Linked DNA regions of Homo sapiens. The main gene of each other region encodes a partner of the protein of the gene in region 2 in a complex. Each region holds a gene or a part of one and is shown on either strand. Other genes may lie near its edges.

Region 1 (16,245 bases), about 42 Mb from region 2:
CCTACACCCTCTCATGTGCCTTACACGCAGGTGTCATTTTCATTTACAAGCATTGGACTCAATGAGCAAAGGGGCTGGAATTAGGAACTCAAATCTTGTGGTTCTAAAGCCTAGGCTTTTTTTGTTTTGTTTTGTTTTGCTTCTCTTGGGGAAAGGTGTGTCCTAAGAAAGTATGATTATCCACAGAAAGGCAAATGAATCTAAGAGTGTGCATGTAAGCATATTGTTAAGCAGCAATTAAGAATGGAATACCTACTGCATGCAGTCATGGTGTTATGTGCTGGGGATGCCAAGGCCCCTGCCACCCCAGAGAGTAGCTTGTAAAGGAGGTGGGGAGGAGAAGGGGGTCAAACGAGCAGATAGGCCTTTATAATACAGTGTGTAGACTGCAGAGTGTTGTGGAGACCCAGTCAGAGGGGATGATGGGGTCACAGAGGAGGACACCTAACCCAGACTTGGGCAGTAAGAAAGTCACATTTGCACTGAAGTCTCAGAAATGAGGTGGAGTTGGCTTAGTGAAGGAAACACAGAGCAGAGAAAGCGTCCCAGGAAGAGGAAGGAGCATGTTGCAAAGGCCCAGAAATGAGATAGAGCATTATTCATGGAAGTCAATACAGTCTGTCTGTGAGCAATCTTAAAACCTAAGCAAAATGATTTCAGGGCCTGCCCATTGACCTTGTATTCTCCCAATTATCTTCTTCACTCCATTTACAAACTATCTCCTCCATCTTTTGAGTTACCTCTGCTGCCCACTGAAATGCAAATACTCCTGCAAGAACCAGTGGACTCCAGTGGTTTCATCTCAAGCCCAGCAAGTATTCTAGGCCATTTACTGAGGGTAGGATTGAGACCTGAAGATGACCTAAGGTCCCCTAGAGCAAGGCAATTTTTGCCAGACTCAGAATTTGGCAGAAGTTGAAGTCCTGCTCGAAGCAAGCCTCTTGTCAAATAAGGGGTGATGCATGTTTCCCATTGGCTCTGTAGCAGCTCAGCCTGTAATTCCACACAACGGAGGCACATCTCCAGTACCTGAAGAGGACCTGGGAACCCCCTACTTGTCCAAAACTGCTGCTTACATAACAGTAGTACAGCTTTGAACTGAGCATGGCTGAAGGGGCACAGCTAAAGGTCATGGTGGAGTTAAATCAGCCAGCACATCTGAGTGACAAAGACAGTCTTCTTAGCTTCTACCATGCTGACAAAAATTGATTTGGTTCTTTAAGAATTTTCCCAATTATTAGTCTGTAAGGTATAGTACTGAGGGCATGAGCTTTGCAGACTGTCTTAGACCATTTGTATTGCTATAAAGGAATATCCAAGGCTGGGCAATTTATAAATAAAAGACATTTATTCAGCTTAGGATTTTGAAAGCTGCACAGGGAGCACAGCACTAGGATTTGCTTCTGGTGAGGACCTCAGGAAGCTTCCACTCATGGTGGAAGGTGAAGGGGGATTGGCATCACATGGGGATAGGAAAAATGCAAGAGAGAGGGGAGGGTGGTACCAGACTCTTTCAAATAATCAGAGCTCATGGAAACTAATAGTGAGGCTTCACTCATTACCGTGAGGACAGCACAGGGCCAGCCATGAAGAATTGTCCCCTTGACTCAAACACCTCCCACCAAGCCCCATCTCCAACATTGGGGATCAAATTTCAACATGAGATTTTGAGGGGACAAATATCCAATCTGTGATATAGATACAGACTAGGTTAGCTATTTGCTAGTTTTGTTCAACATGATTATTCAAACCCTCTGAGCTTAATTTATTCATCCATATGAAATGCATTTGTTGAAAACCTATTATATTTCAGGTATTATGATGGAGTTTAAGGTTCCTGAAAATTTTATAGTTTAGTGGGGATAGCAGATTGTTATTTATTGTACAAATGTGATAAGGAATGCATAGGTATTCTCTTTCACATTTCCCAGTTGTGTGATCCCCCCCGATTCCGCCAGGGGCATATGATTTTCACAGGGTACCCTTGGGACTGTTGCAGCTGGAATGCAAAGGGAAAATGTCCATATACATCTTTAGCAAGACATTTCATAGCGAGACAGTGGTTTTGAAAGTCAGTCATTCTTGTGAAAGAAAAAAAGGGGAAGGGATTCTGAATTTCTTAAACTCTCACAGATTATAAAGAGCCAGGCTTGGAGAGCTTGATCATAGAGTTTTATGGGAAAGGCAAGGTGGTCATCCCCTAGGGTACCCAATTGCTCTCACACTTTGGCCTGCACCTCAAGGTGGAGAGTGAGTATTATAGAAATAAACAGGAAGGAGGGAACCAGGTAACACTGGAGCGAGTGATCTGTTTCCCTGGGTTCTAGCCTCTGGGAGATGCCCCATAGTTGGTATGGTGCCAACATGGTGGACAGTGAGAGTGTGGCTTGATGGGGAGGTAAGTTCTCAGTGGAGACTCTGAGATGATGCTACTGGTTGCCTTCAGCCTGTGTGCAGTGTGCAGAGACAGCTAGCCTCGACATCATTCCTGATCTCCAAACTCCATATGTTGCACATATGTCCTTGAGTATTCCATGGGCCCAGCAAAATCCTAAATTGAAGACCCCTGCTTCCAAGGCCACTACATAGGCCCCACCTCTGGATGCTCCATCTCCATAGCCAGCACCATCATTTACCTGCTCAGGCAAATCAGGAATCCAAAGGGCACCCAGGAGACCCTTTTCTCACCCTACCCCTGCATCCAGCCATTCCCCACTTCCTGATGAATTTACACGCTAAGTTTTGTTTGAATGTCTCCTCTGCATGCTTAGCTCCCCATGCATGGATCAGGCTGCTGCCATCACCGTTCACCCTGACTATAACTACCGGCCCTAGGTGGTCTCTTTGCATTTGGTTTCACCCTTCATTATCCATGCCTTCCTCGACCTTCCCAGTGACTGATCCAGCAGTATCTCCTACCACGTCATGCCCCACCAGTTCTGAATCAGCTGCAGTTTCCCGTACGCAACATACCATCTCACACTTGCACACCTTGGTTAAAAGTGTTCCTTCTGTCTCAAATGATGTCCTTCCCAGCATTCTTCTCCTGGCTCCTACACATGCTTCAAAGCTTATCTTGGGCAATATCTCATTTTAAATGATTTATTGAGCATGTGTTTTGTGCAATATGGAGGGCTGGAGAAGCACCTAGAAAGGGCACTCAGTCTTGACTTGGAGGATCAGGGAAATCACCTGACTAGAAATGTCATTGAAGATTCTCAGAGCTGAGTTTCAGAGGAAGAGGAAATGGACAGGTGAAGGAGTAGGGAGAAGGCTAAAAGTTTTTGAAGCACTGGAAACACCATATAGGACCTGTGGGGCTGGTGCTGCTTGTGAAATGAACTGAAGTAAATTCACCACGGCAGAGGCTAGAGCAAAGAAAAGAAAGTAGCAAGAAAGGAAGATGAAGGGGCTGGAGGAGCCAGATGACACAGAGCCTCGTAAGTCTCTTCAAAGAATATGGAATTTATGCAAAATGCAATGGGATGACAACAAAGGCAAAGCTCTAAGTTGGTTGAATTTCCCATCTCTCCAGCTTCTAGATCCTCCCTTACAGATTTCTTATCAGTTTATGTGTCTGATGCCCCATTGGATAGTAGGTTCCTATATAGCAATAATCATTTCTTCTTGATCTTTGTTTCCTTGTACCTAACACAGATTCTACCCCAGGATAGGATTTTAATAAATGCAGTGAGCTCAGTGTCACCACTGAAGGGACAGAGATCTACCCAGGATGTGGCAGAGCCCATCTATCCCAGACTCCTGCATAGGAGCATCACAAATGAAAGTGTGGGGTTCTTGCCTGCCTCAGCACCACAAAACCTTAATTGTCAACATGATACCATGTGACAGGAAAGAGCAGCTGTGATGCTATGCAGGCAAACTTGATCCCTGGGGAATCCTGCCCCAGAGGTATCTCTTGGGTGGCCCTAATAGGAATGTACCAACTCCAGGGCCAGGGAGGGTTGTATAGTGAGGACCCAGATGGAGGCACACTTGAATTGGCTGTAGGCTCGTGAGGGACACTGAGGGTTTGGCTCAGTGGGAGAGGAGTGAGAGAGCCTCAGGGGACTCTGAAGAAAGCACCAGTGAAAGCCACAGGGTCACCAGGGGTTCTTGTGGAGACCAGTTCCTGTGGAGACTGGAGTCAGACCAGCCTGAAAAGGTGGAGGCTCACAGCTGTTTGAATCGGGACAGCAGAGGAGAGGATCCAGTCCCCAGAGGGCTCACCTGACTCTCCTTGCACCTAAGGAGATCATTGACTTGGTTGGCACTGACTGTGTCTGCATCTGTCTCACTCACCTGCCCTGCAACTCACCAAAATCACAACTGACTTTTATGGGCCTGGCATATAATATACATTAAATAATGCACATTTATTAAATAGGTGACGCAAATTAATATAATTTAAATTCCATGTATCTACTGGGGACTACTAGAGTGGGGAGGAAGGAAATGGGGCAAGGGTTGAAAAACTAACTGTTGGGACTATGCTCACTATCTAGGTGATGAGATCAATCATATCCCAAGTCTCAGCATCAGGCAATATACCCCTGTAACAAACCTGCACATGTGCCCCCTGAATCTAAAGTAAAAGTTGAAATTATTAAAAAATTTAAAAATAAAAAATTCTATGTGTTTATAGGCTGTTTTGTTCATTTGCTGAATCCCCAGCACCTAGAATGGGGCTGGCACGTAGCAGGTGCTTGAAAATTGTTTAACATATTCACTCCATATAATGAAAAGTAATTATTATTATTACGGCTCAAGGAGGGTCAATCTTTCTCCCAAGGACACACCACTTAAGAGGACAGATGGGCTAAATCTTGCCAGTTCCAAACTGGTGACTTTCCTGGGCTGCAGGAAAAGAGCTGAACTGTCCTGGGCCCACGTGGATTTCCTGACCTTTCAAGAATGGGATCTGTGGGGCAGCTGCCTGGCTGAGTTAAGAGCAAGGGCTTTGGATGGAGGGGCTGAGAGTCAGAGGAGAGGCAGAAACACAGTCCTCGCCAGGGCCTGTGCAGATTCGCTGAAACAAGAACCTAGGTAGTGCTTCGCACATAACACTCAAAGTGTTGGTGATTAAAGGAGAGGCCAGAGTTGAAACCATGCTTGGAATTATAAAATTAGTAGAAAAAAACACCTGGAAGAACAAGAGTGGAGGAGAATGTAAAGCCCCAGGACTGAGTTGTGGGAGGCCCATGAGTGCAGAGGGCAGATGAAATCAGAGAGGTGGCTAGTAAGCCAGGATAGTGTGGTCACAGGAGTTCTGAAAGGAAAGTTGTAGACAAAGGAGGTCATGAATAGAGTGGACTAGGACTGTCAAAGTCAGCTGAGCTTGGCTGAAAGGAGGAGGAGGCGTGGCATTTAACAGCAAGGGATTGGGTTCAATTCTCTACTCAGCCGTTTGGCTAGCTATGAGACCTGGGAAGTGACTTACCTCTCAGAGTTTCATCTTATCTACAAATCAATAGGACCAATTAATAAGGCTAGGAAAAATGCCTTGCCCAGTACTTGAAATAAGGCAAGCACTAGATAAATGCTGCTGAGATTGTGTTGGTGTTGGTGGTGTTCTTGCAACTAACGACCTTTAAAAAAAATTATCAGTTTAGTAGGGAGAAAGGAAAGGTAGGGGAGGAAGATGGGAACTTGGTTGCAGAAAGTTTCGGGGAGGGGGTGCCAAGGAAATGATGGGTATAGATTACCTTGCTGAAGAATTTGGTAGTGAATGGAAGCTAAGAAATCCAGAGTTTGGGCTAGCAGTTTCTTTAAGAGAGAAAAGGCAAGTGAATGTTCACAAGCAAAAGCGAGGGAACTAGTAGAGATGGAGGAACTGGAGATCTCAGCGAGAAACAGCAAAAGCCAGGAACAGGCCACAGGAGTAGGCAGGGATAGCCCAGAGGAGAAGGGGGCACCCCTGGCCCTCTCTGCACCCTTGCCTACTTTAGCTCCTTTACCAGCTTTTTCCTGTAGACTGAATTGGTCAGTTTTTCTCCCAGCCTCTTTCAGGGAGTGTAGTAAAAGGAAGGCTTGCTTAGAAGTCAAAAAGCCGGACACTGGCCACGTGTATTTGGCTGAGCCTTTGTCCTTCCTGAGCCCTTGTTTCTTCATCCATAAATAAGGTGGCTGGATTGATCATTTCTGTGATTCTGTGAACATGTCATCTCACTAAGCATTATGAAACATTTCCTCTTCTGAAGTTCTTCTTCACTCTGATTAGAAGGAAGAGGAAAAAAAAGTCTTTAAACGGAAGCTATCACTTCCTCCAGCAATTGGGACAATATTTCTGTGTTTCACATGAAGAACTAGCAGATCCAGTGATTCCATCCTTGCTGGCAGATCTCTGCTGAGCCTGCTGGTGTTTTAAATAGCACATGCACTTTGTCCTGGCCTCCTGGAATGAAGCAAGGGAGAAGCCAGGGGTTTGTGCTAGCTGACTGTTGCTGTTGATGAGGCACTCAATGGCTGCAGCCTTCTAGATCTTCAGAAATAACAACAATTACTGTACACGCCACAATCTCTCCTCCAAGTCAGCAAATGCATCAGCTGCTGGTTATTTTGATACCCTGGATAAAAGGCTCTTTCGAGAAAATCTAGTACAGAAAAACATTCTTATCCTCTGCTTGTCTGCACCATTCCTCTGGCCGCTGCCCTCTCAGCTGTTTTTCATTCCTATGAATGTAGCTGGTCCAGGCCCAGAAGTCCTTCTCTCAATGACCCAAGAGAAGGACATTTCTGTTTGAACCTTCTTGAAAGTGGAAGAGGCAGGGGAAAAGGCACCTGGCTGTGGTCTCTGTGCCAAAGGCAGGCTGATCTGGAACCTGCTGGAAACCAATCCAGTGTTGGTGGGTTGTCTGACAGTCACAAATGACTCTGACCGTTGTTGGATTCAACAAGTATTAACTGAGCACCTACTATAGGCCAGGTCCTATGCTAGGACCTAGGGAAACTGTGATAAACATGGCCAGGGACTAATAATCAAGCCCCCACTAGAACATAAGCTCTCTGAGAGCCGGTACCACTGCCAGCACACAGTGCCTGGCATATGGTAGGCTCTCAATCAATAATCTTTGGAGTATTTTTGTGTTTGTTGTTTACATGTTCTTATTTACTCAAGATCCTTGAAGTCCAGGGACAGAAATAGAGGTAGTTAGGGGCAGAAAGGAGCTCTTATTAAATCAACATGTGCAAGAAGAATATGACCAACAATTTAGGGGGTGAGGATGGAGCATATAAGCAAACTTATAATCTGCTTACATCACTTAAAGTTTCCCCCTTACATACCACATGGAAAAGAACCACAAGTGTCCCAAATCCTTTTGTCCTTCTGAATGATGCCACAAGAACACATACAAATGCTCTGCATTCAACAACCAAATTCTCTGTTATTCTAAAAGTTTAATTTCATACCCAAATTCTCAGGCAGCTATTATGTAAGGCTTGGGGCTAGTGCTTTCCAAACAAGTTTATACATGACATGATTGATGGATGAATTCATCCTGTTATCTGGAAATTCTTTTGTTTAATTGACGATGATAAATTTCCTAATGGATCACCTCGACTATGATACTACTTTTGTAGAAAGGGCCATTCACAGTGTTCCCTGGCCTCTTGCCCTCACTTCCAAAGTGTGTTCATACACCAGCCTGTATCTGAACAAGTCAGAAGTGGACAAGCCTAAGGCTGGGAAACAACAAGGTCACACCAAAGCTAAGGCTGACTTCCAATTCCAGGGCTTTTTGCCTATTTCATCCTTCTCAGAGCATGTGTAAATGGAATGAACTTTCTTATGGGAGCAAACGTGAAAATAGAAAGAAGTAAGACCTCAAGACTAATCTGAATCAAGGGAGTTGGAAATGCCTAGTCAGGGCTTCATCTTGCTCAAGTGCCATCCATTAAGGGTAAATGACCACCCCCAGACTTAGGACAGGAATCATCTGCTTCACTAAATCCCAGTTCCCTGGAGGGTGCCCTTCTGCTAAGTTGCACTGGCTGGTGTTACCAGCAATAGGGAGATTCTGTGCCCCACCTTCCCTCCCTGTTACTCTCCTCACACCTACTTCTCCTCTGTGGCATCCATACAGGGTAGGGGTCCAACCCACCTTTGCTATAGGAAGAAGCGAAGGCACAGACAAGCTCAACACGGGAGGGAGTGGGGCTGTAAATTTCCAAAGAGCTACGAATCCCCTGGAATGCTACAATTAATGATGCACATTTGGTGACAAATTTGACTTCAGGGGTATTTCTCCCTTGCTCATTTTATGCTGGGGTGGGAACAGCCCTGGCAGAGGGGCAGGGGAAAGTCAGGCAAGCTCTCCTGTCAGGCTGAATCGAGGGAACTCAAGAAATTTTGAAGGGTCAGGAAGAATTTGTGTGGGGCCTGGAGTGTGGAGAGGGGGGCATGGGGGCCTAGGGTTTGCTGGCTATATCAGTCTGGGGTCACAGACCCCTTGCAAAACTGATGAAAGCTGCGGACCTTCAGCTCAGAAAAGAATATTAGCATTGCACACAGTCGCGCAAATCAGCCTACAGTTTCAGAGGGGCCAAGGACTCCGGGAAGTTCCTGGAACCCAGGGCCTTAAGTTAAGGTCCCGGCTCTAGCTCCTGACTCCTGAAGTCCTCTGCCCCTTGTCCCCATGCTGGACTTGCCGGGCCTGGGGGCCTTCTAGCTGGTTCTGCAGCCGCCTTCCCTTGTCAGAGGAGCTTGGGCACCTGCCCCTCGCGGAGCTCCCCCTGGGTGCTCACCTATCCTGGGATAAGGAAAGGCGCCCCGAAGAAAAGGAGCAGCCGATGCCTGGGGCACCGAGGGCGACGCCGGGCAGACCAGGGAGGCACTGGCGAAGGGCAACGCGCGGGGGCAGGGCGGAGAGGTGAGGGAAGCTGCGAGCAACTCCGCCCAGCCCCAGCCAGTCGGCCCAACGACCCCTGCCGGTGCCCCAGAAACTCCCCCTCCCGGCTTTGCGCGCGCGGCCCCTCAGACCCCAGTGGGTTTCCCTTTGACCTCTGAAGGTTTAAAGTCCTTCTCTGGCTGGGTCTGGCCAGCCCTCCAGGAGCGATCCGTCTGTAGTCCCCAGGACCCCCTCCAGCCGGGCACCACAGCCCAGCCACAGCAGGTGCGGGGCTGGTGGTGGGGAGGGGAGGGATGGGGGCCAGGATTTGGAGCGTGTGACTCAGGAGTACGGGAGGAGGGGCTAAGAATTCAAGAAGCCTGTGTGAGAGCAGCTCGGCGCTCCGGCACAGCAGAGAGCGCTGGGAGCCGGAGGGGAGCGCAGCGGTGAGTCAGGCTGCCCCGAGCCGATCCCGAGAGGGGCGCAGCGCGGGCGCGGGCAGGGGTGGCTGGGCTTCGCGGGAGAGTTTGCAAGGATACCGGTCTGGCGAGCTCTCTGGTTACCCCCGAGGCTCCCGCAGGCCGAAGAGCAGCCCTGAGAAATGTCCCGAGTGGGTGTGGGGGCGCGGGACCCTCGCGGGAGGACGAGTCGGACCGAGGGAACAGCGTTAGTTCTGGTCGTGGAGTCCCTAGTCCCAGGATGGCCTGCAGTCCAGGGAGCAGCCCTGGCGCCTGCAGAAGCCCACGGCCATGCCAGGGTCTAGCTCGAGGGCTAGAAGTGGATAACGCGCAAGTGAGGGAGAGCGAATGGGCGCGGAGAGGGATGCGCCGGCAGCTGGCGCGCCAGGGCGGGAGGAGTGGCGGCCAGCACCGCGGGGGGAGCGCAGAGCGCGCTGGCTGAGGTGAGCGCCGAGTAGGGAAAGTGCTGCGCGGCCCCCAGGTAGGGGGAGGAGCGGAACGGGGCGCGCTAGACCTGGGGCAGTTCCCTCAGCGCGTCTCGGAAGGGCTGGGAGTCGTGACTGAGGGCCCCGGGGGTTAACGCAGGAAGTCTGCGAGCCAACGCCGGGGTCCGTCCGGCGTACCGGGGCCCTCCACGGAGCCGCGTTGGACAACCTCAGGTAGAGGTCGCCAAGGTTCAGCCCTGCCACTTGGGTCACACGCTTCATCTCCAGCTGTCTGCTGCCAGGTGTGGGAGAAGCGGGCGTGGAAGGTTAGGGCGGGGAGCGCCTTGAGTTCAGGCGAGGAGGATCTAGGGGAGGGAGAGAGGACTCAGGGGTCAGGGAGCTGCAACTTTGAGCCAGCAGAAACAAGCAGCTTAGCTCCCTCTAATTACAAACCTCCTTCTAAAAAAAAAAAAAAAAAAAAAAAAAAAAAAAAAAAAAACAAAAACAAAACAAAAAAAATTTCGAGATTCTTAAGGAAGGTGTTTCGTGCTTGAACTTTTTCTTCTCTTGTGATTTGAGAGATTAAAAAAGAGCCTGCTTGCTAGGCTGGTTTTTCCAAGTTGTTCCAGGTTGGAAGTTGTAACAGTTCGAAGGATAATTTATGAGTGTTTCATGCATTAAAGTGTATTACAGCAAAGCCTTTTGGGTGCTGTGGGTATTAAGGAAAACTTAGTGCACGTTCCCAGCTGGAAACCAAAATAGTGCTCTCCTGGGTGCCTCTGCCCCATCTGTCATCCAAGGCCAATGGAAATCCTGTAGAAAAGTCACTTGATTAATTGTTCTGGCTCCATCCTCTGGGCACACCCACTGCCAGTGCCAGTCCCCTCCTCCCCAATCCATGCACAGCCAGCTGCACTCTGCAAATGCAGAAATGACAGTGGAGACCCCATCAGTAACTTCTCTCCAGGGTCCTCAAACTCTTGAAGCCGTCAGTTAAGTCTGCTGGAAGGGAATCTTTCCCCTTCTCGAGGCAGTGCAGAAGGGCAGCAGCCATTGGCCCCTGCCAGCCCTTCTTATCCTGTGTTTACAGTTTCCTCCTGAATGTCTGAAACTTTCTCCCTCTGCAGAGTCACAGAAGAAAGAAGAAAGGCTGTATCAAACCTGATGGGTCTCTTTTGTTGAATAAGTCATACGTCAACCTGAGCAACCCAAATGTCAATTCATGATGGGCAGTGTTTCCAGAGGGTCAGAGGAGACAGGCGGGTCTGGGGGCTGAGACTGGCCTAGCTGGAATTGACTCACACAGAAAGTGAACATTCCTCTTGTTGAAGGGGGATAGGGTTAATGCCACATGTTGCCAAACTCCTACCCCACTCTTTCCCCAACATCTTTATGCAGGTGAAGGGAAAAAGGAAGCACCAAAAATGGGAAGCCAAGATCACTGGGGCATGAGAACACTAATTTGACAGAAGTATAGGAGCACCTCAGAGGATTTTAGAACCAGCTGCTGGCACCACTGCATTTCCAACAGCAGCCCAGGCCCACCAGAGAAATGAACTGGGCCCACTCAGGGCAGTCATCCCGGTATTGGTGACTCTTTCCCTACTTTTAACCTGTACCAAGGAATGAGGTTCTTGCCTTCTCCTATTGCCCACCCCACAACTCTCCTGCCCCAAGGGCCAGTGGGAGCAAGGAATGAGGCTTCACACTCTCATTCTCTTTCAGGGAGAAATCTGTGCCTTGGACAAGAAGGGGGCCCTGGTTGCCGACATCAGCAGGGAGAGTAGGGTAGGGCAGGGCAGGGCTGGAGCCCGAGGGAAGTTTCTCATCATTACCGAGAATAAACTGATGAAAAAAATCACACAACTTTACTTTTTAAAGAGTGCTGAGCACTCCTGCTGCTCATTGATGGAGTGCTTTACTGCAGTACCCTGCATCAGAGCAGCAGGGAAACTACACAGAGATTCAGCCACTGCTCTTCTCTACTGGGCATGGAGTAGGGCCAAGGCCCAGATCCCCAAGCAGATGTCAGTGCCAGACCTGGGAGCAGAGGCCCAGCCATTTACCTTTTCCAAGTAAGAACTTTCACTGACTTCAGAGTCTAGAGCAAGCCTTAAGAGACCTTTGCTGGCAGCAAATTCTCTGATCTCAGGAAGCAGTGGAAGGTTTGCTGACGGCTTGCATAAAATCTCTGGATATCTGTGTGCAAACAACCCATGCTCCCAGAAAACACCTTTCTGTGACACAGAAAGAGTTCCTGTGTGTTTCTTTCACTAGCTGATCTCACAAACCATCAGCTCTCAGGCTTAGCCAGTTCTGAGAAATCACTTCTGTGGTGGACCATTTTGAGAAAACAGTGTACACTGGCATTGGGTAAATAAATGAGGATGAAAGACCCTTCCCCAATCCATTCCCATGAGACATCGCTTGATAACAGTGGGAAAATAGTTAAGATCCTAACTCCAAATAGCAGTAAGGCCAGGATGATCCTGAGGCTGATATGTGAATGGAGAAACTGAGGCTTTGGGGTCCTCGGTCTTTTATTAGGCTGTGCAGAAGCATAGAAACGTCACTATTTGAGCCGAGGAGAATAAACCTTCAGCCACAAAGTTTAGTGAAGACCAGAAGAATGAAAACATGCAATGGAGAAGACTTTCTGGTGGTTCGTGATGTTTTCATTGCTCCTCTCTGGGCTACTTTACATGCTTTTGAGGCCTCAGACTAGGACACAGTAGGAATCAGATTAAAATGTTAGGATGATCCCTTGATATTCTTCTCCTATATTTTGGGTAAACTTCCTGTTACAGTTTCCTCACTTGTGAGAAAGGAAGGGAAGTAGCTTTGTGACCTTGAGCAAGTCGCTAAGCTTCTCAGGCCTCACTTTCCCAACTCATTAGGCAAGTATATTGGATTTATATTGTTTCTGAATGGAGCTGTCAGCATTTTGGGACAATTCTTGGTTAAGTGTGACCAATCTGCACAGTGCAGATAGTTTAGTATTCCTGCCTCACCTCCTAAATGTCAGAAGTCATAGTGACAACCTCAAATGCCCCTCATAAAGGGCTAAGTGTATTCAAAGATAATGCTGCTCCCAGTTGAGAAGTCTTTTGGAAATTACCAATAAGGGCCCTATTGTTGGGGTTTCTGTGGTTAATCATCAAACTGGGGCTCCAGAAGTCAATTCCTGGGCTTCATCCTCCAAGAGCCAGCAAATCAGACTCTAGGCCACCATCGGCAGGGACCTCAGTGCTGTAGTCCCACCAAGTGTCATCCTTTGCCTTTTGTGAGTGAAGTGGACTACAAATGACCCATGGGAAAAGAAAATCAGAAAGAGTAAGGTGAAGGGACAGGTGCTATTAGAGCATGGCAGCTTCCTACTCTGCCATATGTTATTAAAAACACAGGCAGACTGCATGCCTGTGGAGTCTGCAGCACTGGGAGGAAATCCTTCCCTCCTTTGCTAAGTGGATCACACTCTGGCATCAGGAGGTTCCTTCCCTGAAGCAGAAGCCCCCAACACTGACCGCACTTAATACAACATGAGTGCACATTGACATCGAATTAATACAACTGTGCCCAAGCTGTGAAAATAAATGAGAATTGATAACGTGACATTTCCTTGAAAAAAAGTAGGCTAGCAACACTACACTCGAGGGATGGTGCTTGTGGCACTGGGTTTATTCTCAAGTAGAATAGCTCATTATTCTCACCTCTGCTTCAAGGTCTCATTGGGGGACAGAAAATAGAACTATTTGTTTATTTATAGTACCTAGGGTTAAAATGAATAATGTCTTCAGAGGGTAGGAGGGTATTATAGGAACACATGCTTTCTACTCATGCCCAACTCATTACAAGTAGGAGTGAAAAGGAACTGCAGAGCTTGGCGCTGATTTCAAATGAGGGAAAAAAAAGAAAGAAAAGAAAAGAAAGAGAGAGAGAAGAGAGAAAGAAAGAAAAAGAGAAAGAAAGAAAGAAAAGAAAGGAAGGAATGAAGAAAGAGAGAGAGGGGGGAGGGAGGAAGGAAGAAAGAAAGAAAGAAGGAAAGAAAGAAAAGAAAGAAAGAAAGAAAGAAAGAAAGAAAGAAAGAAAGAAAGAAAGAAAGAAAGAAAGAGAAAGAAAGAAAGTCTTAAGGAGCTCCCTCCCCAAATGAGGTTGATCTGATGATGAAATCTGTCAGGTGGAACTAGCAACAATGCTTTTGAATTGCCTAAGACTGTAGCCAACGCATTCACGTGCGGGAAGTCTTTTTTTTTTTTTTTTTTTTTTTAGTAGTACTATTAGTCAGAGTCAGACAGTCAGGATTTCCCTGAAAATCCACCACTGGGCTAAGCAGATTGAGATGTTTTGGCACTTTTGGCACCGCCTGTGGTGGCTTCTGCAGGTGGAGAGCCCTGCGAATGAAAGAAGCTGGCTATGAAATCAGTGGGAATGAACCACCCAAGTTTCACACAGAAGCCCTTCCACATTGGGCAATTTCAATCCACTACTACAGGAACAGTTTCCCAATAACCACGAAGTATTTGTTGTCAGTACAGATGGGCTGATTTTCCCATTTCCTTTGGCTGCTCCTTCAGTAGTCAGAGTTGGTGGTATAGGTCACCTCCCCTCTGTGTGCAGTTGCTAAGTGAGCCCAGGGAGGATGGTCTCAAGAGCTCAGCCCTTGCCCAGGTTAGGGGGTGGGGGAGACTGTCCTGACTTCAGTTCTTCATCATTACAGATGGATTACAACCCTCATTAGTAATGGAGTGACTTGCATGTCTCACTTGCTCAGTCTAGTGAAATGCCAACCCATTTTTGGATCTGAGCAGACCTGGCTGAGAGGTCAACGATTGAGGTACTGCCTCATCACTATGGATATGTATTGAACCCCCATTGTGTATGAGTGATGCCAAGTGGGACAGGCTCCCTTTGGATTATGGAGAACACTTTCAGAAAAAGAAGTCACACTGTTTCTAGCTGCCTGAGAGGTGCTGGACTAGATAAGCAGGGGGAAGGACGGGGTACTCCAGGAAAGTGGAGACATAGGAGGGCCTCTCCTGTCCCTAAGTTTTCTCATCTGTAAGACAAAGATATTAGTAGTAGCTATGCTGTCATCTGGCTGTTGTGCACATTAAGTGGGAAGGCATAGGCAAAACAGCAGCACAGGCCTGGCATGAGGGGGGCACCAACGAACATGAGCTTCCTCCCCTCACGTTCTCCCTTGGAAGGGCTGATCTGAGGGGAGCCCCCACTTCATAGTTGTTTTTTTTTAATTTCAGGTAGGATAACATCTTTTTTGTATGTTTTTAATGTATCTGTGCATATATAGCTTTTCTGTTTTGGGAGGAGAAATCTTTTTGGTTGCATTGAAGACTTCTCTAGGAATTTACTCACTGATATTTTGACCTTCTGTAGTTAACATTCTCATTTTGATAGAATTTTAACCAAACATTTCATCTTGCGATTTATCTTCGCCTTGTAATGTCTGGGTAAGAGAAGACTCACGGAGGTTCTCCTGTAATTTTCTTTCAGAGGCAAACTTCTCCTCAGACTCTTATTTCAGAAATGTTATGCAATGCTCTCTAAATAAGGCATTTCTTGAGAATGACCATGTTTGCTTGCAGCTTTAAGAATGTTTTGCTTCCTTACTCCACGTAACAACTCCTCTGTGTCTTTAGGATTTTAAATGTCTTAGGAATTCTTCAAGTTTACAAGAAAAGAAAGAGAAAGTGAATTTTGCTATGGCAGTGGGGCATTTCTGCTCTCCCAGACCAAGAGCCAAGGGTTAAGCAGCTGTTGCTGAATTACATAGAACCTGTGGTTAAAGGGGAAGATTGTCCTCGCCCCACAGGGGAGGGGGCCCACCATGTATGAGGCTACTGGATAGATTTTCTTCTCTCAATTAGCATCCTTATTAATATGCTACCTGGGACACTGGGCACTCTGGGGACTCAAAATAAATATAAATCATGATCCTGCCCCAAGGAGCTTGCTCAGGAGTCATAACTAAAAGGCTTAGTGGCTCATGAGAGAATATAAATGAGCTGAGGCCAGAGATTGCTGGGGCTGTGAAAAACTAGAGAGGCTATGCCTCATTGTTAAGGGACAGGCCAACCATTGCTGTAAAGGATTATAGGTCCAATACAGATCTCTTCAAGAACTTTTCAAGAAAAGCCAAAACTTTGAGACTGAAAAGCCAAAACTCTGAAATTTCTTCACTTTCCACACATGGGTACAGACCAAACAAAATTTGTCTGCAGGCTTTTTAATCTTCTTATGTGAATTAACACATGGAGCAATTGCAAGCAGTATCAAAACTGGAACTAGTGGAAGTACTAATTCTGTGAATATATGACCTCCAAGAGGGACAGGTCTGGATGTCAAGAAGGCTTTCAGGGAGGCTCCTCGGAGGGCAGTGAGGGGCTGTCCCATAGGCAGGTAGGATTTTACAGGAGTCCTGGCACACAGATAGAACTGGATTTAGGTCCAAGTTCACTTCTCATTAGCTCTGTGAGCACATTACTTAACCCCTGTAAGCCTCAGTTTCTTCATCTG
Region 2 (7,000 bases):
TTTGTCATGTGTAAGTTACATGATCTTACGACAATTCTTCATCTTGCTGAACTGTGGGTTTTTTGTTTGTTTTGTAAGCTGAAGAGGTGGACAAATTATCTTCTGACATTTTAGAAAGTGATTTTCACAAAATGAAAATAATGAAGTGGTGGATAAATCTCATTTATCCGAAAACTTTATAAATGTGGAATCCTCTGACCACATGCCAGAGGAGGTATGGTTTCCCCAGGCTTCCATTGGAATATGTGAGTTCAAAGGTTCCAGTAGAGTTTCCAGCCTTTTGTGCAAGCTCTGGGTTCCAGCCACTTCGAGGGGAAGCCCTGCCCTGCCCTCTGCTTCCCTTGGCTGTCCCATCCCCTCCAACTACTGTGGGGCCAATAACTCTTCCCCTTGAGCTGGTCTGCCACCCCTTATCCTCCTAACTGAGGGAGAGCAGCCTCTCTTCTCCTCCATTTAACCCATTTAGGGTGCAATTTTTTTTAAGAGATAGGGTCTTGCTTTGTTGCCCAGGCTGGTCTCAAACTGCTGGTCTCAAGTGATTATCCCTCCTTGGCCTCCCAAAGTGCTGGGATTACAGGTATGGGCCACTGTGCCCAGTAGGGAGTGACTTTTGTATAGGTAGTTTCTAGAAAACACAGATGGTAGCAAACATGTAAGTCTCCCAAAGAGAAAGCAAATCCTGGAATCACCCCAAACAGAGTTGATCTAAGGTCTCTCCATGCAGGGGTATGGCCTCTGCCTGGTCCCCTTTCTTTTACTCACTCTAGGCAGCTTTGCTCTCTGGAGCAGGGAGGAACTGCTCAGTGGCTAGTTGTCCCTCCACCATGTCTGAAGCCCCCTGCTCAGCGCCCCAGTGGCATCTCCCTCAACATGGTTCCAGGGGCCTCCAGCAATTCTGGGGTGGACTCTCCCACCAAAGTGAAGGCTCCCCAAATAAACACCATGCTCCCAGCCCCCCAGGCACACATTCCTGGTCCCTGCATATCCACTCCTCCTGCCCAGGTGGAGCCAGCTTTTTGGGTGGGCACAGCCCATTGTCAGCTGCCGTTGACCTCGTCAACAAGGCCGACTGAGTTACCTGTGGCTACTCTCATCGGCCCATCGCCAGCCTAAGGACAAAGGGTAAGGCCTGGGAAGATGTCCAAAGGCATGTATGGATAACAGAGATAGAGGCCAGAGAACGCCCAGGGGCAGGCAGGACATCAGAAGGCCATCATGTCCACCTTCTCAGCTTACAGATAAGAAAACCAAAGTGCAGGCAGATTAAGGGATTTTTCTGAAAGTCATTCCCAGAATTAATTAGTGAGAGAGCTGGAGCCAGACCTATGCCTCCCTTACTAATACGTTCATCACATGCCCAAGAGGATGCTGCTTCCAGAATCTCCAGAAAAAAGACCACGATACCCCCGAGAACTCATCCCGGATGCAGTACAACTGATATTGTGCCTCCTCCCTGGGTTCCAGTTTCCTTATATAGAAAAGTGATCTGCCGGGCACAGTGGCTCACACCTGTAATCCCAGCACTTTGGGAGGCCGAGGTGGGTGGATCACGAGGTCAGGAGTTTGAGACCAGCGTGGCCAACGTAGTGAAACCCTGTCTCTACTAAAAATACAAAAATTAGCTGGGCATGGTGGCGCGTGCCTGTACTCCCAGCTACTCGGGAGGCTGAGGCAGGAGAATCGCAGAATCGCTTGAACCCGAGAGGCGGAGGTTGCGGTGAGTCAAGATCGCGCCACTGCACTCCAGCCTGGGCAACAGAGCGAAACTCCATAAAAGGAAGGAAGGAAGGAAGGAAGGAAGGAAGGAAGGAAGGAAGGAAGGAAGGAAGGAAGGAAGGAAGGAAGGGAGAGAGAAAAGTGATGTACGGGAGGGATGGTCTGTTGGGTTCCTCTCAGCTCCAACATGTAAGGTTTCTGTGACCCTCTCCCTTGCAGCCAACACCATGTTCCCAGAAAGGGGTTCTAAGTCCTGGGGCTTCAAGTATAGCCTGGGGTCCCTGCTGGGTCAGTGCCCACCCTGAGGGTGTGTGCGTGCCCTGGGCTGCCCCAGAGCATAGGCCTGAGCCCTGTGGGTCTAAACCATCTCTGTCCGTCCCTCAACCTCAGTGTGCTCCTTATTCGTTGTCTCTTTCCTCCACAGTGTGTCTCTCTTTCCCCATCTTTGTCCCCTGTGCTCTGCCTGGACCTCTTGGGGGCTGCCAGCGAAGGTCTTCTCACCATCACCGTGGCTGACTGCTCCAGCTCTGTGAGGATCCAGCCGGCCTGCTCCAGGCCCCGCCCCTCCACCTGGCACCGCAGCAGCACGTCGTCCCCCACATCCACCGAGGCATTGGGCACCTGGACCTTCAGCGTGGGCACACCTGGCCACCCAGGACGCCCGAGGGCCAAGGGGTGTTAGAGCTGGGAGTGGCCCCAGAACTCTACTGCGGGGCTGCTCCTTCCCCCACCCTCCTCAATGACCTGGAGCCCAGGCGATGTCACCCCAGGCAGTTTCCCCCAGCCTTTGCCAGTGCCCATTCCCCAGGCCTTTTCAGTGCTTGCTCAGTGCCCTCTCCCTCAGGCAGGTAGGTCTCTTCCCCAGCCCCCTTACACCACCTCCCTCACCCGGCACCTACCACAGCTGGCATTGGGCATGTGGGCCAGGGGCCCTTGCCCATGACACTGCAGCTTCTGTTCAGGCACTCCGCCCAGTCCCTCCTCCTCCCAGCGCTGTAGCCAGCGCAGGGCACAAGAACAGTGCAGAGGGTTCCCCGACAGGACCCTGGGGGGCATGGGGGACACCAACAGAGTCAAGGAAAGGGCCTGAGGGATCACAGGGGATAAGAGGGAGCAGTTAGGCAGCAGGGAGGACCGTCTACAGGTGAAAGGGAGGACACAGAGGTCTTTCTCTCTGACTCCAGTAACAGGATGTTATTCAAAGAAATAGGCCATTGGGAGGCCGAGGCGGGCGGATCACAAGGTCAGAAGATCGAGACCATCCTGGCTAACACAGTGAAACCCCGTCTCTACTAAAAATGCAAAAACTTAGCCAGGCATGGTGGCGGGCACCTGTAGTCCCACCTACTCAGGAGGCTGAGGCAGGAGAATGGCGTGAACCCAGGAGGCGGAGCTTGCAGTGAGCCGAGATGAGATTGTGCCACTGCACTCCAGCCTGGGTGACAGAGCGAGACTCCGTCTCATAAAAAAAAAAAAAGAAAAGAAAAGAAAAGAAAGAAAGAAAAGAAAAGAAATAAGCCAGGCGCTGTGACTCACACCTGTTATCCCGGCACTTTGGGAGGCCGAGGCGGAGGATGGCTTGAGCCCAGGAGTTCAAGATCAGCCTGGGCAACATGGCAAAACCCCAACTCTACAAAAAGAAAAAATAACGTAAAAATGAAAGAAATCTAATGCAGAAAGTGGAAGACAAGACAGCTGACGTCTGAGGGATGCATGGGGCTCCCTCACCCCAGGCTCCCCAGGATGAGAAACCAGGCAAGGGCTCTCAGCATGGTGACAAGGAGGGAAGGGCACAGCCCCCCAGAGTGACCCAGAGGCTTTAAGTGCCCACCAGGTACACATGGACCCCTGCTGCCCCACTCACCCCTGTGCAGGGTGCCCTGGGAATGTGGGCAGATGTGCCTTGGACACACAGTGGGCCTGTAATCTGCTCAGCCAGGCCCAGCACACACACAGTCATCCAGGCCAGCTCCTCAGGGCAGTAGCCCCCTTAACGGGTAGTCCTGCAGCCCCTGCTTTGATGGGGGTTTCACTGGCATGCACATAGTCCCCAAAGAGACCCCCCAGCAGTGTCACACAGACACAGTGACCCAATGTCATCCAACAGACCCAAGTGCACACAGGCACACACACACTTGGTGCTCTTGCCCCTGGAAGCGCCCCCACTCACAGTTCCTGTAAGGAGAGGCCCTGCACAGTTTTCCAGGAGAGAGACTCCAGAGCGTTGAAGGAGAGATTCCTGCGGGCGTGGAGACACAGCAAGACAGACCCCTTGAGTGACCCGACCTCACTCTGACCAGAATGAGGGAGGGGAGGAGCCAAGAAAGAAGTTGACATCTGGCTCCCCCGCCCCGGCCTAGGCAACCAGAACCAGCCCTGGAAGGCAGTGTGTGTAGATGGTGGGGTGGGGGGTGGGGGGACTTTCTGAGTCCCACTCCTTTCCCTGGGACAACAAGGGTTAACCCCACTTAACCCCCTCTCCAGACCCCAGGGAGGGGGATCTGAGGGAACAGCCGCTCCTCCCTCCCCCACTGCTTTGGCCCCAGCTGGCAAAGTGCTGAGGCCACAGCTGGGGGAAGGGGTCCATCTGTGCTCCCCTCCCTACAGAGCCCAGGACGGGGCCAGAGGAAGAGGGGGAGGGTTGAGGCTGCCACTCCCTTGCCCCTACCTGACCACAAGGAACTCCACGCACTTCCTCAGCTCCCCTCCTCCTCCTCCTTCCGGGCCCTCCTCAGGGACTAAAAGGTCAGGCAGGAAAGGACCCACACCCCCACACCCCCAGCCCCCTCGTTGTATGGATGGAAAAAGTGAGCCCAGCAGGGGCCCGGCTCCAGGCCACACAGGAAAATGATGTAGGAGCCCCAGTGCCCTGTGCCCTGTGCCAGGCTGCCGCTGCTGGGACCCTCTGCCTCTGAGGGGCCTATCCTGACCCCTCTTCTTTCCTAGCCAACCTAGAATTTGTGGTGGCTGGGTGGGAGAAGTACCACCACATAGGGACCAAAGACACAACCCACTCTAGAGCCAGCTAGAGCAGGTGTAAGTTCTATCCTGCCACTTACAGCTGTGTGACCTCAGTCCAGAAACTCAACCTCTCTGATTCTCAGAATTCTCATCTATGAAATGGGGACAAGAACACTCTCTCTCTCACCAGGTTGATTGTGAAGATTCATTGACATAAGTATCGTGAAGTGTCATTGAGCACGTTTTTAACTGAAGCCCCGGTGCATAGACGGTGATATGACATCACTTTATTTTGCTTTGTTAAATTGCTGGACACAGCAGAGTTTAGAGGACCCTGCATAACTCCATGAGTGTCAGCCCCACCATCCTTCCCATCTCTCTGCCTGCTCATATTGGGGGACAGGGGAGCTGAACTCCTGCCCTCAGAAGGCCAGGGAGGGGCTGCCAGGGACTCTGATAGTCTCTCCTGCCCATCCCATGACCCTCTCTGTCCTACAGCAGGGGTCCCCAATTCCCAGGCCACAGATGGGTAATAGTGCCACTATTCTCCAGCCTGAGCAACAGAGGGAGACCCTGACTCTTAAAAAATAAATTAAAGAAAAAGAGAAGCACAGCAAGGAAGAGGGGCTATAAACAGGGCAAATATGTGGTCTCTTAGGAACCGGGCCACACAGCAGGAGGTGAGCAGCGGTGAGTGAGCATTACCGCCTGAGCTCCGCCTCCTGTCATATCAATGGCAGCATTAGATTCTGTGAACTACTGCGCACGTGAGGGATCTAGGTTGTGTGCTCCTTTTGAGAATCTAACTAATGCCTCATAATCTGAGGTGGAACAGTTTCGTCCTGAAATCATCCTCTCCTCCCGCACCATCCGTGGTAAAATTGTCTTCCATGAAACCAGTCTCTGGTGCCAAAAAAGTTGGGGTCCACTGCTCTACAGGAGGGATAGTTATGACTCCCAGGAATGAGGAGGGTGACAAGTGGCAGACCTAACACCCCAGCTCCCAGGATGTCCTAGGGGCCAAGTCAATGAGTCCCTGGGAAATGGAGTCCCAGCCAGAACCCAGGAGTCCTGCTCCTGCCGCTTGCTCCCTTTGCACTGGTGTGTATCTGAGCCCTGGGAAGAAAGATAGGGCAGGCACCTATGAGAAGTGTCCTTGCAGCATGGACCATGGAAGTGAGATGGCAAGGAGGACCTCTAGCTGTCAGGGGCGAGAGCATGCCATCCCTGAGGGAGATGGGAGGAAGCCCCAGGAGAATGGTGAGGTGACTTCCCTGACCAGGCTTGGGCCCTCCTCGCAATCATTCCCCGGGGACAGCCAAGCCCATTAGCAGCCCAAGTCTGGGTGTCCTCCCCAACTCCCACTGCCCAGCACTGGCCACACTCACAGGCGACTGAGCCGAGGAGTGAAATGGAAGGCATCTGGCGCCACGAAACGGAGACCACTCTTCACGATGGTGCTGGGGAGGGGTGCAGGAGGATCAGTCCCCAGGTCTCAGCTACTCTGGGCCCCTGGCCCTCCCTGCCCATCCCAGCCTCCCAGTCCCCTGTGCTGAACCCCTACCCCTCCTCAGGCCCCTCATTGTTTCCTCAACTACTCTAGACCCCTCAAAGCCCTGAGCTTCCTGACTTCTCCCAGTCCCTCAGTGCTCAGCCTCTCAGGTCCTCCCAGGCCCTCGGATGCTTGAGCCCTCCCTGACCTTCTGGTCTCCCCCAGGCCCATGCTGAGCTCCACACCCACAGTCCCCGTTTCCCTCACAGGTTTCTCAGCTCCCCCAGGCCCCTCAGATCACGGAGCTCCAGATGCTGCAGATGCTGCTGGTTCTCGATGTAGCTGTGGGGAGAGCGGATGGGAGTCACAGGGCTCAGGCCCACACTTGAGTTCCCATGCCCACCCACTTACTCCCTCACAATACACATGCACATGCCACATGCACACGCATATGCACCTGTTCAGACCTGCATACACACTTACACAGGCGTGCACACACAAATGCATACATGTGCACAGAGACGCACCTCAAGTCACACATGCACATGTGTGTGCATGAACACACAAGCGCACATACATATGGATCCCCACACCCTCACACATATGCACATTCTCACATACCTCTTGCACACATGCACACACCTAGGTATGCACATGCGCACACACAGAGGCATAAGCATCTGCACAGATGACGCCATGCACCTGCACATGTGCCTGCAGGAACACGCTCACCCATGGACACACAGAAACAAAGCTCACGTCCATCTCTCACGTGCACACACACAAGTCCATTCTCAGATTGGTGTTCTCCTTTTATATCAGGCATCCCTG

The links.
Region 1: the proteins of NTRK1 (region 2) and NGF are in contact, whole or in part, in a crystal structure (PDB 1WWW), measured with the Homo sapiens proteins. Residues at the interface, in NP_002520.2 of Homo sapiens: His291, Val294, Glu295, Met296, His297, Cys300, Pro302, Phe303, Ser304, Leu333, Glu334, His343, Gly344, Cys345, Arg347, Thr352, His353, Met379, Asp380, Pro382; in NP_001424474.1 of Homo sapiens: His125, Pro126, Ile127, Phe128, Arg130, Gly131, Glu132, Phe133, Ser134, Ser138, Ser140, Trp142, Tyr173, Phe175, Arg180.

Annotation. Positions count from the first base shown.
Region 1 is NC_000001.11:115,331,233-115,347,477, reverse strand, and holds the start of NGF (beta-nerve growth factor precursor), read left to right. Parts: upstream 1-9,228; 5' UTR 9,229-9,274; intron 9,275-16,245. UniProt on the Homo sapiens protein: Nerve growth factor is important for the development and maintenance of the sympathetic and sensory nervous systems.
Region 2 is NC_000001.11:156,863,865-156,870,864, reverse strand, and holds part of NTRK1 (high affinity nerve growth factor receptor isoform 2 precursor), read right to left. Parts: intron 6,512-7,000; coding exon 6,437-6,511; intron 6,138-6,436; coding exon 6,066-6,137; intron 3,956-6,065; coding exon 3,887-3,955; intron 2,762-3,886; coding exon 2,616-2,761; intron 2,361-2,615; coding exon 2,218-2,360; intron 1-2,217. UniProt on the Homo sapiens protein: Receptor tyrosine kinase involved in the development and the maturation of the central and peripheral nervous systems through regulation of proliferation, differentiation and survival of sympathetic and nervous neurons.